Linked DNA regions of Homo sapiens. The protein of the gene in region 2 interacts with the protein of the main gene of each other region in a pairwise test. Each region holds a gene or a part of one and is shown on either strand. Other genes may lie near its edges.

What was found.
Region 1: the proteins of HDAC4 (region 2) and CDR2 interact in binary tests that used the Homo sapiens proteins (3 or more experiments, as listed by UniProt).
Region 3: the proteins of HDAC4 (region 2) and BICD2 interact in binary tests that used the Homo sapiens proteins (3 or more experiments, as listed by UniProt).

The regions. Positions count from the first base shown.
Region 1 is NC_000016.10:22,345,404-22,350,619, forward strand, and holds the end of CDR2 (cerebellar degeneration-related protein 2), read right to left. Parts: intron 4,447-5,216; coding exon 4,298-4,446; intron 4,041-4,297; coding exon 3,876-4,040; intron 2,421-3,875; coding exon 1,562-2,420; 3' UTR 533-1,561; downstream 1-532.
Region 2 is NC_000002.12:239,047,993-239,055,024, reverse strand, and holds the end of HDAC4 (histone deacetylase 4), read left to right. Parts: intron 1-191; coding exon 192-276; intron 277-1,423; coding exon 1,424-1,565; intron 1,566-1,888; coding exon 1,889-1,928; 3' UTR 1,929-6,857; downstream 6,858-7,032. UniProt on the Homo sapiens protein: Responsible for the deacetylation of lysine residues on the N-terminal part of the core histones (H2A, H2B, H3 and H4).
Region 3 is NC_000009.12:92,719,802-92,726,833, forward strand, and holds part of BICD2 (protein bicaudal D homolog 2), read right to left. Parts: intron 3,008-7,032; coding exon 2,855-3,007; intron 955-2,854; coding exon 499-954; intron 1-498. UniProt on the Homo sapiens protein: Acts as an adapter protein linking the dynein motor complex to various cargos and converts dynein from a non-processive to a highly processive motor in the presence of dynactin.

The DNA of each region.
Region 1 (5,216 bases), on a different chromosome or scaffold from region 2:
AGATAATCTGGGACAAAACACTTTCAAACTTCTAACTGCAAAACTGCATATATAAATAGAGCTCTTTAAATAGGCAAAGGAGACTACAAATGGCTAACAGATTAAAAAATATTGTCTTATTAATAGAAATGCAAACTGTTTTTAAATAAGCTATACTATTCAAACATTAATAGTATAGTTTGAATAGTATAGTTTGAATAGTATAGTTTCTTTGCTATGGTTGATCAAATGTTTTGAGAATCAATTTGTCAAATGCTATTAATTCAGAACCAAGTCTGACATTTCTGAAATAGTGAAAATTACAGAGTATATAAATTTGAAAATGTTTGTCCAGAGTAGTTTTAATGAGCATTTAGCAATATGAGCAGAATTTGTGCTATTAAGTTACACAAATCCAAGGATTCCCTGTTTAAAATAGGAAAAAAAAAATCACTGCAAATCTTTCTCGCGATATTTGTTGGAAGAAAAAAAGTGAACAGTTGGTTATAAGAGCGAAATGGCTTATATTGAAAGTAAGACACAGATCCATCTGTTCATTTTCATAGGTAGCTTTATTTGGTTTTTAGAAAAATATATACAATAATCGGAACATCAGTTCTTAAATAGTTTTAAGTTAAAAGAATGCAAGTGAGAGGATGTTTCCACAGTCAGATCAATACTGCTTAATAAAGTAGATAGGAATTTCTGCAACAAGTCAAAACATTTACAGGAATGGTAAGAACTCTGCAAGAGCAGCTTGTGGCTGGCAAGTCAGCCAGCTCAGAAAACAGGTAGGAAGGGAAGGGGTTTGATCTTTCCCCTTTAGTTTGAATTTGAGAAAGTGATAAAAGATTTACATATTCACCTATCCTAAAGGCTAGAGCTTTGAGTAAAAACATTAGAATACAGGGATGGAGGCCCTCTAGGGCATATGCTAACAAGCTAACTTATATCAAACAAAAATTTGCCATCTCAATTTGGTATTCAGTTGGATTTGGATATATTAGGATTACCTGTCAGTCACAGTTCAACTAGTTCAGATATAACAAAACTCAAGGACTTGGAGTATTGGTTAATGACATTTCTTTTGGATTAGACCCCTGCTTTCTCTCGAACATTCTTCGTAATGAATTCACAGTATTCAAACTGTTTGCAAAGATATTTGAGTTTGACAGCCTTCTGACTTTCATCGTTTTGAGAAGTTGCGCAAGGAAGCAATAGGAATTGCCTTAGCTTTGTTCTAACTCGACCCTTTTCCCCCATACTGTAGTAACTCCAGGCCTACTTCTCCAGAAGTATAGCTCTTCCCTCCACTGGTCCTTTTCAGGAACTGAAGTCTAATCAGCGCGCCAGCCAGAGGCCAGTTTGTCATGGGATTTCCTGGGGAGCTTAAATGGAAGTGGATCAGAGAACTGATACCACTAGCCACCTCCTTTCCTCGTTGTATGCATTTGCTAAATAAGCAAAGCAATGAGGCAAACGTCATGAGTAACATTAGGCTTCAGAGTCTACAAACACTTGTCTGAATGGGAGAGAGAGGCGATAGGCAATAGGCAAATTAGTAGTAGAGCTAGAGGTTCAATTAAGAATGAGAGGAGAGTGATCGGTATTTTGTTCTCTGTTCATCTATTTCCTGCTTAGTTTTCTTGATGCAACTAAAGATCTCCTTAAACAACGCTTTGTATTCTGGAGGTGTTGTAGGGGAACTCACGGGCTCTGGGTTGACAGAGGCCAGTTCCCAGCCGCTGGCAACAGGCTCAGACTGGGCGTTCACTCCAGTCAGGTCCTTGGCTGCAGCCCTGGAGGTCTGCACAGCCTTGTGTGACAGGGAGTCCTGTTCCTCTTGGCACTTCTTCAGCAACTCTTCATACTTCACCTTCAGGGCGCTGTACTGCGTGTCCACTTCGTGCAGAAGGGAGATGCCCCTCTGTTTCACAGCCTTGGCCCTCCTGATGCAGGTCTCCTCGTGGCCCTTCACGATGTCACTCCCTGCCAAGCTGCTGAGGATCGTCTCACTGCTGCTGCGCTTGAGAGGCTTTCTATGTGATTCCGGCACAGTCAGGAACATCTCTTCCAGCAGGCTCTGGCTGGGCTCTTTGAAAGGAACATACAGAGAGTCTGGCACCAGCTTCTCAACTCCATTCACAAATGGATGCTCTGACTGCAACATCTGTCGCATCTCTGCCACCTCGGCCTCTAGTTCCAGCGCCCGTGCTCGGTAGGCACCTGTGGCCCCCAGCTGCTGCTCCAGTTCACTGTTCTCCTTTAACACGAGCCCATATTCCTCCTCCATAGTCACCCGCTTCTGCCGCTCCAGGCTCAGCTGGGCCTGCAACATTGTCACTGTTTTTTTCAAGTGCTCATTTTCCTCTTCATCAGGGCTTGGCTGACCTTGCAAGGAAGTGATCTTCTCAGCGAACACATGATCATACACGAAGTGTCTAGGGAAAAAAATATTGAAAGAATATATTACACAGGTCCACTGAAAATGACGAGAGGAAGACTGGTGATTTTTTTTCAACTAAATAAATTTGAGGAGCTGTGACAGTGACTAATTTTTTTTTCTTTTTTTTTGAGACGGAGTCTCACTTTGTCGCCAGGCTGGAGTGCAGTGAAGCGATCTCAGCTCATTGCAACCTCAGCCTCCCAGGTTCAAGCGATTCTCCTGCCTCAGCCTCCCGAGTAACTGGGATTTTAGACATGCGCCACCACGCCCAGCTAATTTTGTATTTTTAGTAGAGACGGGGTTTCTCCATGTTGGTCAGGCTGGTCTCGAACTCCCAACCTCAGGTGATCCTCCTGCCTTAGCCTCCCAAAGTGCTGGGATTACAGACGTAAGCCACCACACCCGGCCAACAGTGATTGGTTTTTAGCCACACTTGGAGCAGTGGCTAAAATGGAATTGTGTGAGGCTGGTAAATAAACACATGAAAGCAAACTCAATTTTTGTGACAAATCTTTTTTTAATGTTAAAAGTACTAGAGAACATCTATTCTAGCAGTATGACAATGACCTCACAAGGGAAACCTTAAAAAGTACTGGTGCCTGGGTCCCAACCCACAGATTCCAACCTAGTTGGTCTGCTACCTGGCCTGAGGGTTTCTAAAGGCTCTCCAAATGATTCATAATATGTAACTACGATTGAATCACTACAGCAAATTACTGTTGCTGTGGTGATTTTTAACCAGGAATGTTCATCAGAATTGCCTGGGCAGCTTTTTACCCGCACCTAGAAATTCTGATTTAGGCCTGAGGAAATGTGTTGGTATTTGCATTTTGAAAAACCCCACAGGTGATCTGATGTACAGCCAAGGTTGAGACCCACCAAATGAACCACCTGGTTTCTCCTGCTCAGTCTGAAGCACCTTGACTATTTATTTGTGTTTTTATTTGCTTATCTGCCGTTCCGTTAGACTGAAAGCTCACAGGGGTAGAAACTATTTTGCTCGCCAACCCTTGGGTCTAGCATACAGCTTGCCACACAAGTGTTCCATAAATACTTCTTAAAGATTCAGACTTATAACTCTAAATTATAAAGGTACTTCTTTAAGCAAAAAATCTCCTGTTCGCTTGAATTTTTGTTTTACCAGTATTTCTGTTTTTCTTCACTCTAATGTAAAACACAACTCCCAAATCTAGTCTATCAGAATTCATCTTAAACTATGATTTAATACATTAAAAACACTGAAATAAGTGTTCCAAGACTTTCAAAATGAGAACTACTAATATCTAAGAACTCTGTAATTTATATGTTTAAGTGATTTTGTTCAAACCAATGGTAGCTTAATAGCTAAGTGACTTTTCTTAAAATGGTACTTTCAATCTACTGGAAATCAGAATGTGCCAATGACATGAGACAGTCCCTGCTGTAACTCCACAGAAAGGCAGGCTCTTACTGGCGGAGGTCATACAGCTCCTTCAGACATGCAAAGCTGGGTGCCGGTTTCTCCTGGTCACACTTTCCCGGGCTCCTTCTCCCTTGGCCAGATGACTTCAGCTCCTCCACTTGGCTCTGGAGGTGATCAATGTTGGTTTGCAGGCATTCAATCGTTTCAGTCAGGCTGTGAGGAACAGACAGAAGCCACTGCTGCTTGTCATATTGAATCAAGGGCAAAAGCGGTGAGGAGAGATTAGGTGCAAACCACTCACACTGGGCTTTCTTAATTGGAAAGGATGTCTATTTAATCTCCATTCTCCAAAAAGAATTAAATTAAACCTTATCCCATATTGACCCAAACCCACTGCAGCCATGTTCTATTCTAGTTTATACTAAAGAACTTCCCCCTAGTCCTTCCTTGTCAGATTCTAGAAAATTTACCTCAGAATCTTTTGCTGTGAGGCCTTGCTGTCAGCAACTAGCTTTTGATTTGTTTCTTCCAGTTCCCTTGCTGTGACGTCTAATTGTTCATAAACCTTTGCATGTTGTTCGTTCATCTGCCGTAGAAGTTCCACTTGCTTCGTCAGATACTGTAAGAGAAGATCAGGACCAGGTGACACAAACAGATAAGATACCTGCTGTTTCTTGGCTGGCTGCGGTGGCTCACGCCTGTAATCCCAGCACTTTGGGAGGCCAAGACGTGTGGATCACCTGAGGTTAGGAATTCGAGACCAGCCTGACCAACATGCTGAAACCCCGTCTCCACTAAAAATACAAAAATTAGCCAGGTGTGGTGGCACACGCCTGTAATCCCAGCTACTTGGGAGGCTGAGGCAGGAAAATTGCTTGAACCTGGAAGACAGAGGTTGCAATGAGCCGAGATGGCGCCATTGCACTCCAGCCTGGGCAACAAGAATGAAACTCCATCTCAAAAAAAAAAAAAAGATACCTGCTGTTCTGCTGTTCCAACACCAATTCTCCGATTGTCAGCACCAACTCTTGTTGGGGTGGGGCTGACATAGAGTCTCCATCTCTGGGCTCACTGGCCTCCCAGCACTGCCCAGAAGCTCCTTTAGACCCATTTCAGTTTTCTCCAGGTCTTCTCTCACATCAGCATGATTGATTCAATTATTGGCCATTGGTGACTGAACTCAAGCTCCAACCCTTCCCTCTATCCAGAGGTTGTGGGGCTGGGACTGATAGATCTAACCCTCTAATCATGTGGTTGCCTTCTCTGGTGACCAGACCTCAACCTATCAGGAAATTCCAAGGGTTTTAGGAGTTCTATGCCAGAAACCAGGGACAAAGACCAAATATATAATTTTTATTATACCACAATACCATATGTTTATTTTAAGAA
Region 2 (7,032 bases):
TCCACTTTTACAAAAAAATTATAAATACCACGGCACATTTGGCTTTTTAAAGTTATTTTTTTCTACTCTGTGGGCAAATGCACCCCACAAGGGTCTCTGTGCTCAGGAAACAGTTGCAGTCTCGGAACACCCGTCTAACGCACGTGTGGATTATATTGGCAGTCTTTATATTCTTATGCATTTTCTTCCAGCTTGATCCTCTCCCAGAAAAGGTTTTACAGCAAAGACCCAATGCAAACGCTGTCCGTTCCATGGAGAAAGTCATGGAGATCCACAGTAAGTTGCCTGGCTGGGTGCTCACAGGGGACACGCCCCTGGGGGTGGGACTGCACCACACCCCATCCCTGTCCCCCTATACCCCCAGCTCTTCTCCATCCCACTGCCGGCTGCTTCCCCAGGCCTGCAGCAGAAGGCCTTGCTTTCAGCTGCATTTCTTGAGCTGGTAGAGACTCACATTTAACCCCGACTGGATTTCCCCCGGCCTGCTGGGATGGTTCCATCAGCCCAATTTGTAAGTCTAGAGAATCAAGGCCCAGACAGTCTCAGTGTGGAGTCACTTGCTCTAGGTCCCCAGCTAGCAGCGGGGGCCATGGCTGTGAGCCTGTACCCTGGGGACTCCGGCCTCTTCCCTGGACCAGAGAAGCCCACGTCCTGACCTCAAAGAACCCTTGGCCCTGCAGAGAGGCAGGGTGTAGGCCCTCTGAGTTCTGGCACCGACCCTCAAGCAGCAGGTCCTGGGTGCAAGGGCGTGGCACGCAGCCTATCTCAGAGGCGCCTCCCACACCCTGTCATTGTCGCAAGCCCAGCTTGTCTTGCCTTTGAGATGACCCAGATGGTTGAGACTGTCCACAGAAGCAGGGGTAGTCCAGAGCTCAGCTCCCCGTTTCCCTGTGTGAGGGAGTCCTGGCTTCAGAGCCCTGAAGCTGACCCTGGGCCAGGCCCAGCCCTCCACATACACCCCCTTGCGCCTGACGCAGTACCCCTCCACCCCCAGCCTCTGTGAGGGCCCAGGCAGAAGACCCCTCAGCCCCAGCGACAATCCCCCAGCTCACCTGCTCCCAGAGATAGGAAGGCTCAACCCAGCAGGCTGGCAGCCCCCTGCCCTGGCCACCCAGGGCAGAAAGGGGCCCGTGAGCGTGGAAAGCCAGGCCTACAGGAGCCTCCCTCTGCAGTCCTAGGTGGGCCTGCTCCTGGAGGGACTCGAGCCACTCACAATGGGGAAACATTTCCAGAGATTTTTTGGGTCTTTGTGAGTTTGTAGCCATGCAGTCTTCTGCTTCGTGTCTCTTCAAAGACGGGTGCTTTTAAAATCATAAGGGATCAATCTGGTTTGAGGCTCAGGGTCCCGCAGGACCTTCCCGGGCCTCAGTGCATCCTGCTAAGTTGTAGTCACTGAGCGACTTTCCTCACCCCACCACCCCAGGCAAGTACTGGCGCTGCCTGCAGCGCACAACCTCCACAGCGGGGCGTTCTCTGATCGAGGCTCAGACTTGCGAGAACGAAGAAGCCGAGACGGTCACCGCCATGGCCTCGCTGTCCGTGGGCGTGAAGCCCGCCGAAAAGAGGTGAGCACCTGCCCTGCCGCCCGCCTGCAGGCTCACCCAGCCCCACTGTGCCCACTGACACACTATTCAGGGTCAGAACCTTTATGGCACATGCCCTGCCCAACAGACTAGAGACAGGCCAGTGTGGCCCCCTCCTTCCAGTGCCAAAGCCCCTTAGAGACGCATGAGGAGCATTAGATCCTGAACAGATGGACCCGGGGCTGCCAGGCCAGGGCTAGGCTGGCGGGTGGGGCAGCACACAGCCTTTAACCCACGTTCTGTTCTCTCCTCTCTGTGGTGCACCTGCCCCACGCCCCCATCTCCTTCTCTTGCGGGATCCACAGACCAGATGAGGAGCCCATGGAAGAGGAGCCGCCCCTGTAGCACTCCCTCGAAGCTGCTGTTCTCTTGTCTGTCTGTCTCTGTCTTGAAGCTCAGCCAAGAAACTTTCCCGTGTCACGCCTGCGTCCCACCGTGGGGCTCTCTTGGAGCACCCAGGGACACCCAGCGTGCAACAGCCACGGGAAGCCTTTCTGCCGCCCAGGCCCACAGGTCTCGAGACGCACATGCACGCCTGGGCGTGGCAGCCTCACAGGGAACACGGGACAGACGCCGGCGACGCGCAGACACACGGACACGCGGAAGCCAAGCACACTCTGGCGGGTCCCGCAAGGGACGCCGTGGAAGAAAGGAGCCTGTGGCAACAGGCGGCCGAGCTGCCGAATTCAGTTGACACGAGGCACAGAAAACAAATATCAAAGATCTAATAATACAAAACAAACTTGATTAAAACTGGTGCTTAAAGTTTATTACCCACAACTCCACAGTCTCTGTGTAAACCACTCGACTCATCTTGTAGCTTATTTTTTTTTAAAGAGGACGTTTTCTACGGCTGTGGCCCGCCTCTGTGAACCATAGCGGTGTGCGGCGGGGGGTCTGCACCCGGGTGGGGGACAGAGGGACCTTTAAAGAAAACAAAACTGGACAGAAACAGGAATGTGAGCTGGGGGAGCTGGCTTGAGTTTCTCAAAAGCCATCGGAAGATGCGAGTTTGTGCCTTTTTTTTTATTGCTCTGGTGGATTTTTGTGGCTGGGTTTTCTGAAGTCTGAGGAACAATGCCTTAAGAAAAAACAAACAGCAGGAATCGGTGGGACAGTTTCCTGTGGCCAGCCGAGCCTGGCAGTGCTGGCACCGCGAGCTGGCCTGACGCCTCAAGCACGGGCACCAGCCGTCATCTCCGGGGCCAGGGGCTGCAGCCCGGCGGTCCCTGTTTTGCTTTATTGCTGTTTAAGAAAAATGGAGGTAGTTCCAAAAAAGTGGCAAATCCCGTTGGAGGTTTTGAAGTCCAACAAATTTTAAACGAATCCAAAGTGTTCTCACACGTCACATACGATTGAGCATCTCCATCTGGTCGTGAAGCATGTGGTAGGCACACTTGCAGTGTTACGATCGGAATGCTTTTTATTAAAAGCAAGTAGCATGAAGTATTGCTTAAATTTTAGGTATAAATAAATATATATATGTATAATATATATTCCAATGTATTCCAAGCTAAGAAACTTACTTGATTCTTATGAAATCTTGATAAAATATTTATAATGCATTTATAGAAAAAGTATATATATATATATAAAATGAATGCAGATTGCGAAGGTCCCTGCAAATGGATGGCTTGTGAATTTGCTCTCAAGGTGCTTATGGAAAGGGATCCTGATTGATTGAAATTCATGTTTTCTCAAGCTCCAGATTGGCTAGATTTCAGATCGCCAACACATTCGCCACTGGGCAACTACCCTACAAGTTTGTACTTTCATTTTAATTATTTTCTAACAGAACCGCTCCCGTCTCCAAGCCTTCATGCACATATGTACCTAATGAGTTTTTATAGCAAAGAATATAAATTTGCTGTTGATTTTTGTATGAATTTTTTCACAAAAAGATCCTGAATAAGCATTGTTTTATGAATTTTACATTTTTCCTCACCATTTAGCAATTTTCTGAATGGTAATAATGTCTAAATCTTTTTCCTTTCTGAATTCTTGCTTGTACATTTTTTTTTACCTTTCAAAGGTTTTTAATTATTTTTGTTTTTATTTTTGTACGATGAGTTTTCTGCAGCGTACAGAATTGTTGCTGTCAGATTCTATTTTCAGAAAGTGAGAGGAGGGACCGTAGGTCTTTTCGGAGTGACACCAACGATTGTGTCTTTCCTGGTCTGTCCTAGGAGCTGTATAAAGAAGCCCAGGGGCTCTTTTTAACTTTCAACACTAGTAGTATTACGAGGGGTGGTGTGTTTTTCCCCTCCGTGGCAAGGGCAGGGAGGGTTGCTTAGGATGCCCGGCCACCCTGGGAGGCTTGCCAGATGCCGGGGGCAGTCAGCATTAATGAAACTCATGTTTAAACTTCTCTGACCACATCGTCAGGATAGAATTCTAACTTGAGTTTTCCAAAGACCTTTTGAGCATGTCAGCAATGCATGGGGCACACGTGGGGCTCTTTACCCACTTGGGTTTTTCCACTGCAGCCACGTGGCCAGCCCTGGATTTTGGAGCCTGTGGCTGCAAGGAACCCAGGGACCCTTGTTGCCTGGTGAACCTGCAGGGAGGGTATGATTGCCTGACCAGGACAGCCAGTCTTTACTCTTTTTCTCTTCAACAGTAACTGACAGTCACGTTTTACTGGTAACTTATTTTCCAGCACATGAAGCCACCAGTTTCATTCCAAAGTGTATATTGGGTTCAGACTTGGGGGCAGAAGTTCAGACACACCGTGCTCAGGAGGGACCCAGAGCCGAGTTTCGGAGTTTGGTAAAGTTTACAGGGTAGCTTCTGAAATTAACTCAAACTTTTGACCAAATGAGTGCAGATTCTTGGATTCACTTGGTCACTGGGCTGCTGATGGTCAGCTCTGAGACAGTGGTTTGAGAGCAGGCAGAACGGTCTTGGGACTTGTTTGACTTTCCCCTCCCTGGTGGCCACTCTTTGCTCTGAAGCCCAGATTGGCAAGAGGAGCTGGTCCATTCCCCATTCATGGCACAGAGCAGTGGCAGGGCCCAGCTAGCAGGCTCTTCTGGCCTCCTTGGCCTCATTCTCTGCATAGCCCTCTGGGGATCCTGCCACCTGCCCTCTTACCCCGCCGTGGCTTATGGGGAGGAATGCATCATCTCACTTTTTTTTTTTAAGCAGATGATGGGATAACATGGACTGCTCAGTGGCCAGGTTATCAGTGGGGGGACTTAATTCTAATCTCATTCAAATGGAGACGCCCTCTGCAAAGGCCTGGCAGGGGGAGGCACGTTTCATCTGTCAGCTCACTCCAGCTTCACAAATGTGCTGAGAGCATTACTGTGTAGCCTTTTCTTTGAAGACACACTCGGCTCTTCTCCACAGCAAGCGTCCAGGGCAGATGGCAGAGGATCTGCCTCGGCGTCTGCAGGCGGGACCACGTCAGGGAGGGTTCCTTCATGTGTTCTCCCTGTGGGTCCTTGGACCTTTAGCCTTTTTCTTCCTTTGCAAAGGCCTTGGGGGCACTGGCTGGGAGTCAGCAAGCGAGCACTTTATATCCCTTTGAGGGAAACCCTGATGACGCCACTGGGCCTCTTGGCGTCTGCCCTGCCCTCGCGGCTTCCCGCCGTGCCGCAGCGTGCCCACGTGCCCACGCCCCACCAGCAGGCGGCTGTCCCGGAGGCCGTGGCCCGCTGGGACTGGCCGCCCCTCCCCAGCGTCCCAGGGCTCTGGTTCTGGAGGGCCACTTTGTCAAGGTGTTTCAGTTTTTCTTTACTTCTTTTGAAAATCTGTTTGCAAGGGGAAGGACCATTTCGTAATGGTCTGACACAAAAGCAAGTTTGATTTTTGCAGCACTAGCAATGGACTTTGTTGTTTTTCTTTTTGATCAGAACATTCCTTCTTTACTGGTCACAGCCACGTGCTCATTCCATTCTTCTTTTTGTAGACTTTGGGCCCACGTGTTTTATGGGCATTGATACATATATAAATATATAGATATAAATATATATGAATATATTTTTTTAAGTTTCCTACACCTGGAGGTTGCATGGACTGTACGACCGGCATGACTTTATATTGTATACAGATTTTGCACGCCAAACTCGGCAGCTTTGGGGAAGAAGAAAAATGCCTTTCTGTTCCCCTCTCATGACATTTGCAGATACAAAAGATGGAAATTTTTCTGTAAAACAAAACCTTGAAGGAGAGGAGGGCGGGGAAGTTTGCGTCTTATTGAACTTATTCTTAAGAAATTGTACTTTTTATTGTAAGAAAAATAAAAAGGACTACTTAAACATTTGTCATATTAAGAAAAAAAGTTTATCTAGCACTTGTGACATACCAATAATAGAGTTTATTGTATTTATGTGGAAACAGTGTTTTAGGGAAACTACTCAGAATTCACAGTGAACTGCCTGTCTCTCTCGAGTTGATTTGGAGGAATTTTGTTTTGTTTTGTTTTGTTTGTTTCCTTTTATCTCCTTCCACGGGCCAGGCGAGCGCCGCCCGCCCTCACTGGCCTTGTGACGGTTTATTCTGATTGAGAACTGGGCGGACTCGAAAGAGTCCCCTTTTCCGCACAGCTGTGTTGACTTTTTAATTACTTTTAGGTGATGTATGGCTAAGATTTCACTTTAAGCAGTCGTGAACTGTGCGAGCACTGTGGTTTACAATTATACTTTGCATCGAAAGGAAACCATTTCTTCATTGTAACGAAGCTGAGCGTGTTCTTAGCTCGGCCTCACTTTGTCTCTGGCATTGATTAAAAGTCTGCTATTGAAAGAAAAAGAAAGCGAACAGTTTTTGTTTGTTTTTTTTGCCGTGTGTGCTCCATAGTGGAGGCGCTATTTTCCAATTGATGAGAATGACAAACATATATAATCTATCTATCTATCTATCTATCTATCTATCTATACAGGGGGCTTGAACCTTACTCACCCAAGAGCTTCTTACGGAATGTGGTAGAAAACCAAGTTGTAACGACACTGTAACCTACCTGATGCCTGTTCGCGCCCGCCGTGAGCTGCGCACTGGCCGTGGCCACCATTCACCTCTGTAATTTAATCCGTTTCTCTTGGATTGTCTGGACGTGCCCGATGGTTCTTTCTTTTGCTCAGTGGAGTTGGAGGTTTTGTGTTTGGTTTTCTCATTCTTGTCTTGTTTTGTGTGGGTGGATTTTCACCGACCAATGATATCCTCTTCTGACGGTCACCTTCTTTCCACTTCACTGGAGTCCAGTATTCTGTACCACATCACGCAACGTGTTATCTTGTGGTGTAAATAAAGACTGCGTTACTTGCCCTCCCAGCTCTGGTTTCTGCCCGTGCGCTCTCTTCCTCATTGGCTCTCGCATGTCTGGGACCCTGTGGGCCGAATGGCCAGTGCCCTGGGTCCCATCCGGATGGCTGCATGGGAATCACTGGACCCCATGGGGACGGCCCCTAGACCCAGACCAGCGGCAGGCCCGTCCCCCTCTGCCTGC
Region 3 (7,032 bases), on a different chromosome or scaffold from region 2:
TGGTGGTCACCCTCAACGCAGGCTCTTTCCCCAACCATGCTACAGGGGATCTGGGCTAAGAAAGTGGAGCTCTAGGCTGGCTGGGTGTGTAGTCGGGAATATTAGCACCCTAGCCCTCTGCTTCGGAGGACAGGACTCTGTTGCCTTGGATCAACAGGGATCCATGTCCCAGGGGATGAGCCCAAGCATGACCATGGTGGGCCCCTGACACCTGGCCTGCGTGCAGGGATCACATGTGGGCCAGTGTCTCATCACTTCACCCTGACACCACGTAGTTAACAGGGGAGCAATGTGGGTGCTGCAGTGCCAGGAAACCACTTCTCTGAGACTCCTCTATGTGTGCTCCTGGAGTTCCATTTACCGTAATGATGCAGGAGATAAAATCAACGTAAGGAAAAGGGAAAGTTAACATCAGCAGAGTGTCAGGTAAGCACTGCTCGGGGAGCCCTGCAGACCTGGAGTGGGGACAGCGTGCCGAAGGCCCCACTGCCTGCTCACCTGCATCAGCTGCTGCTTCAGCTTCTGGATCTCAGAGATGTTGAGCTCACTGAGTAGGTCGGAGACGAGGCTGGGGGAGGGCGGTGCGAGGCCCTCCTTCTTGGGCGTGGAGGTCTTGTTGTCCAGTGGCAGCTTGGCCAGGCCGCCGTGCTCAAAGCCATTGACCAGGGCCTCGGCATCGTTGTTGGGCTCGGCAGCATCGTCACTGAACTTGAGGCCATCCAGCGAGACATGCAGGTGGCTGGTGTAGAAGGAGTCATTGATGCTCATGTAGTGTGACAGCTCCTTGCGCAGGCTGTTCTTCTGTTCGCGCTCCGTCTTCAGGGTCTCCAGCGCCTCCTCCAGCTGCCGCTCTGAGATCTCCTTGAGGCGGATGGCATCCTCCAGCTGGCTGTTGAGGTACTCGGTCTCCTCCTCCAGACGCTTGATCTCATGCTTGAGGCCCTCAAACTCCACCTGGGAAGAGAAGTCAACGCTCTTGCATCAATGCAATGTGGAAGCTCCTTTCAGGCCCCATAAATGAAGAAAACACACCAGCACACCAACTCCGGCCACTATGAAGCAAAAGATGAAGCGCCAGGTGAGGTGCCATCCTGGGAAGGGTGGCAGCCCGTCCAGGCCAAGACTGCTTCCTCTGCTCAGAGATGTGGATGCTAAGAAGGTTCCAGGGCATGAGATGCGAATGCAATGAAATGCTCAGCCCAGCCCACCCACCGCTGGGACCAGCAGACACAGCAAGGGGAGCACAAATGTCTGAGGTGGCCCCAAGCCAGGACTGTACGTGTGGAGATGCACCAAGAACAACACACATCCATCCATAGAAGGCTGCCAACCTTGTATTAAGTCATTCACAAATATTACCAAGTGCATGCTGATTAAAAATTCTATAAAGTTATTTAATTAACATTAACAGTTAACTAAATATCTTAAGATACATAAAAATATATTTCAATGTGTGCTATGATCATGACTTCTAATCATAGTTCAAAATGAAGGAACAGAAACTCCCCGCAAGGCAGAACATCTCAACCACTAAACCTCCACATGCACATGACACCCAGACCTGGAGGAGCTCGAAGGTAGGTGGGAAAAGCAACATCAAAGTCTTGTCTACATGAAAATTGTATCTGCAGGTGGGCAAGGAAAAAGCAGATAGAAACTGATGCCTGATGTGGAGGCTCAGAATTTGTGGGCAATTGCTAAAACTATTTCTTATTTTTCTGTAATATTTGGAGAAAAAAATAAGAAACAAACCAGTAACAGGAAGTGCTGAGCACATCTCTGTGGGTCTTGGGTCGGAAGGGACACCCATTACCACATCCAAGGTGTGCTCACAGGAGGTGGGCATGGAGCCCTCAGTCCCAGCACCACAAATGCGGAGGTGAGGAATCCCAGAGAGGGAGAGAGAGTCAGACTCCACTAAGCGCCAACCTGAGGACAGGGTCGCCTCAAGCCTCAGTTTCCCTTCTCCTAAGGCCACCATGCGCTGGGCTCTGCCAACAGCAGCACCAATGACCAAATGGTACTTACAATGTAGACAGTGGCTAAGACTGTTAATGAGCTCGAGCTGTCACAGAAGGACCAGGCTAGGAGCTCTGCATAAACACATGAGCTTCCTCCTCCGGGCATAAATACCACATTCCCTGATGGTGAGACTCAGAGGATTTTGGTGGTAGAGGATTTGAGGAAAGCAAGGAAGACATCCATGGCATTCTGGGGAAAGTTTTGGGAGAGAAAAGACTCCCATTCCCCACCATGCAGGAGTGTGGCTCTTGCAGAGAGAAGAGCAAGTTCAGGCCTTGAGTGGCAGAACAGCAGAGCACATGACAATTTAGTCACATCACAAAGAGAAGGGACCCTCCTTATTCATCTCTGTCACAGGCAGAGACCCTACTCGTCCCTGTCAGGGGTCCCTCTGAGACCCCATTAGAGACAGAGGGGTTCCTGTTCATCCCCGTCACAGACAGAGAGGACCTTCCTTGTCCCTGTCACAGGCAGAGACACAGGAATATTGCAGGCCTCATGGTCAGCACCTGATGGGGGAGTCTCAAAGTCCAATCTGGGGTTTTCTGGTGTAACCTCTTCATTACCTCTCAGATTTTTGTTTTCATTTTTGTTGGCTGGGACACCTCAGCCTGGCCAATGTCAGCAAACACTGCAGCCAGAGTTTCATCTTTTGGAGAGTCTGGGTCCCACCAAGTATACCCCTGCCTCCACAGTGGTAAAGCTGGCCCTGGGCCTCGGGTGTGTGGAATAAGACAGGAACCCCTTCCCAACAGGGAGAGGGGCTGAGCAAGAGGTCCTCAAGGCCCAGTTAACCCACGTGCCACCTCCACCCCACAGGCCCAAGACTCACCTGGTTCTGTCTGAGCACAGACACTTGCTTCTGCAGGCTGATGTTCTCCTCCTCCAGTTCCGAGTAGTCCTGCAGCAGACGAGCTTCCCGGAATTTGTACTCCTTGATGTCATCCCGCAGGCGGCCACGCTGGATCTCCACATTCTGGTTGATCTGTTGGGGGAGAGGGAAAGGCAGGTATGAGCAGCCTCCACAGGGCACGAGAGGGGCTCAGTGCAGCCAGGCACGCCATGGCCAGCCATACAGCCAGAACTCAAGAGCCCTGGCCTGCAGGTGCCAGTGTGACTGCCTGGAGAGGAGAGGGAGCCCAGAGCAGTATGCCAGAGTGCACAGCGGACTGCAGAGGTTCCAGAGTAAATTCCCTCAGCCCTTCTCACCTGGGAACCCGTGACTGCCTGCTCCGACCCTTGGTTTCTTCATCTTTAAATTAAAATGGGGTTAAAAGTAGTTCCTGCCTTCTATTATTGGGCATGTACACAGTAGTGCGCAGGTGGGCATATAAATGGTATAGTGCTCTGGCAAACAGCCTGCAGGTGCTGCAACTGTTAAACACAGAGGGTCTACCCCAGAGAAATGTACACATGCCCACACAGAAACCGGTCCACACATGTTCACAGCAGCAGCGTTCATTTTGCCAAAAGGTGGAAGCAGCCCAAGTGCCCATTGACTGATGAATGAATAAACAAAATGTGGTCTCTCCACACAATGGAATGTTGTTCAGCCACAATAAGGAATGACGTACTGACACATGCTACAACATGAATGACCCGTGAACACATTCTGCTGAGTGAAAGAAGGCCTGTCACGAGAGGCCATGCATTATATGATTCCATTTCCATGAAATATCCAGAATAGGCAAATTCATAGAGACACAAAGTAGGTTAGTGGCTGCCAGGAGCTGGGGAGGGGGATGGGGAGTGACTGAAATGGGTTTTCTTTTTGGAGCAATGAACTGTTCTAAGATTGTGGAATGGGGCACATATATGTGACTATCATAAAATACACTGAGTTGTACACCTTATGTGGGTGAACTATATGAGATGTAAATCACCTGAATAAAGCTGTTAAAAATTAGTTCAGGCTCTAAGTTGCCCATAAGGAGCCAAGAGATGTCATGGGAGAGGCTAGTGCAGGGTTGGGGCAAACAGGATGCAATCAAGACAGAATTTCCAACTTGCTGCCATGTGCCAGGGACCTGGGCCCCTCAGCCGCAGCCCTAGCAACATTCAGGGACGTTTCTTCTTTGTGGTGGGAGCCGGCCTGTACATCATATGTCTAGCAGCTCCCTGACCTCTGGCCACCAGACACGGCTGCCTCCTCCATTGTGACAACTGAAAAATCTCTCCAGACGTTGCCAATGTCCCCCAGGGGCAAAATCATCCCCTTGACAAACTCTCTATCCCCTCCCTGTACTCTGCTGACCCAGCTGCCTCCCTGTGTATCTGCAAAGGCCTGGCTCCCCAGACCATCACCACCCCTGCTCCAAAGCCCTCTTGGACTCTCGGCCAGAAGCCCTGTCCATCTTGCGGGCCCCATAGCTTCGCCCACCTCTCACACTGTTCTCTTGGCTTATGCTATGGTTTCTCCTGGTCACATGTGTGCACTCATCTGAATGGAACATACTTTATAGACAAGATTCCAAGATCCCATGCAAGTACACACAAAACGATCATACTGGCAAAATGAAATAGGACATCCCTCCCAAAACAAAGGAAAAAAGGAATGCAACAGAGAGGGGAGGAGAGTCAACAATATACAGCAAGTACTACTGACAAATGCTTACTATTTACAATGAAGATTACATTTAAAACCTACAGCAAATGGACGCAGACATGGCCCTCTCATTATAAGTGACCCAAGGAAGTGACAGAAAGCTGACACCAAAAGAAACAGAGATACCACACAGGGAGGAAGAGAAGGCCTGGCAAAGCCTTGTACCAGAGGAGAAAGTGAGCGAGGTGCATGCTGGGACGAAGCGGGAGAAAGCAGCACCAGCACAGCCATCACCAGGGCCGGGCCCCACAGTGGCTACACGGGGGGTGGATAGGGAGTGGGCAGGCTCTCCAGCCTCTCTCCTGCTAGTGAGAGTGCAGCACCCCCCAGGAGTGTGCTTAGGGGAGCTGCACAAGCCAAGTCACACCCAGGCTCTCCACACCCCAGCTGGAGACTTGGGTACCTCTCTGCCAGAAAGGTTTGCCCAGTTCCTGCTTTTTCCTTGCTAACTGGCAAGCAAGTGGTCTGCAGCAGGTGTGCAAACATGTGCCACTTGATTCAACGCGGCCACCCAGCCGGCTCCTCAGGCGGAGTGGAAGCTGAGGGGAAGGTCTGAGTCCCACCAACTCTCCCAGGCCTGCCAGTCAAGATCAACAAACCTAGAAGGTGCTCCAGGCAGTGGGAAGTGAGAGCCCAGAAGCTTCCATGTGCCTGGGCAGGGAGATAGTGACATGCCCAACTAAAGACTGAAGCAGAGAGCCTGGCCAGATGCCTCATACCATTAGGGTCCCCCAGAGGCACACACGAGACTGCTGTTCCCTTGGCAGTGCTCATGTGAGTCCTCAGGGTCCTTCATCACCTGGCCCAGGCAAGGTGTACTAGGAGTTCTGTCCTTGCACCACTGCCAAACCCAGAACACAGAGGCACACCCAGGTCAAATGCTGGCCTGGCCATACCATGTCATGGGTGATGATGGCACCATCTCTGCTGATGCTGTAGTAGGACGCAAACACTGTGCTTCCATGCCCACACTACTGGGCGTAGGCAGCCAGGCTCATGTGGCCTGCCACCTAGCACCTCCATCCAGCACACGGCCAATTGCCAAGGGCTCAAACAGGCTGACTGGTCGCCATGGGGTTTAGTTTTCCCTCAAGTAAGCACCTTCTCCCAGTGAGCCTGTCTGATGTCAGCCCAAAGAAGTACAGGGGACAAGCTCTGCTGCGTGTGACTGGGCAGCCCAAATGAAGGAGGTGGGAGCACAGGCCTGTAGCTGACCACCAGGGTCCCATCTCAACTCCCCTTTGTGGGATCCCCACACCTCAGACTGCTCATCAGCAAGCAGGGTGTGACAATTGCCTGTTTCAAGGAGCCACTGTGCAGGGGGTCGGCTGCCCTCTCTCCTGTCCCCACCAGACAACCTCAACACCAGGAAACTCTCATCTCTGCCTTGATGGCCTAGGCCAGCCCCTTCACCCTACTCCTTCTTGGGGCAAATATGAAGAAAGATCTTGGTGTGTGTATGAGACCCAGCTCTGACCCCAGGCCTCCTGTGGCTCTCTGGGCCTCTGATTCCCCATCTGGGAAATGGAGCCACATCCCCACCAAGGCCCAATCCAGGCCAGTCCTCAGAAGCTTACCCACCTCCCAGGGGCCCAGGCAGGAAAGATGCTCTCACTAGCAGGAGAGAAGCTGGAGGGGCTGCCCACATGTAGGGCCCACACATACACAGCGGTTAGAGTCAGGATCTGAGAAGCACCTCACCCCCTACCAGCCAGGACACCTTAGGCACATGATGGAACCTTGCAAACCTCTGTTTCTTCACATCTGACGAGATACCAGTAGGGTCACCAGAAGGACCAGGTCTGAGGCAATCAGAACTGTCCAACACATGCCAAATATGTTTGTTACTGTAAAGCTTCACAGGTCCTCATGGTGTGTTGGGGTGTGGAGGGGGACAGACAACCAGTTGACCCAAGGGAGGAAAAAAGGGGAGGGGCTGTTGTGGGTAGCAGGGTGGTGGGTCAAAGGATACAATGAAGGCTGTTTTATCGTCAAATGTACCCTTTCTGACCCATGGGGTGTGAGCCTTGGGCAGTGACTGGGGAAAGCCACGCTGGGGGTGGGCACAGAGAAGCTTGGCACAGTGGCTCAGACCAGCAGAACAGCAGGCAGCAGAAGACAAGAGCTATGCATGACTGGGACTGGTGGTGGTGAGACAAGGTCAGTCCTAGAGATGCTCCACCCGAACCAGGTACCCAAGGCGAAGACCTGGGATGGTTCCCACAGCTCTGCAGCAACCCAGGGCAGGGACACAGTCATGGGGGACACAGCAGACCCAGGGACCAAGGTGGGGACCCTCAGGAGAGACAGGGAAGGCTGAGGGGTGTGCAGGGAGTCTCAGGATTTCCTCCTGAAGCACAAACAGGAACCACAGAAATCCTCTCTTCCCCACAAGACCTGCAGCA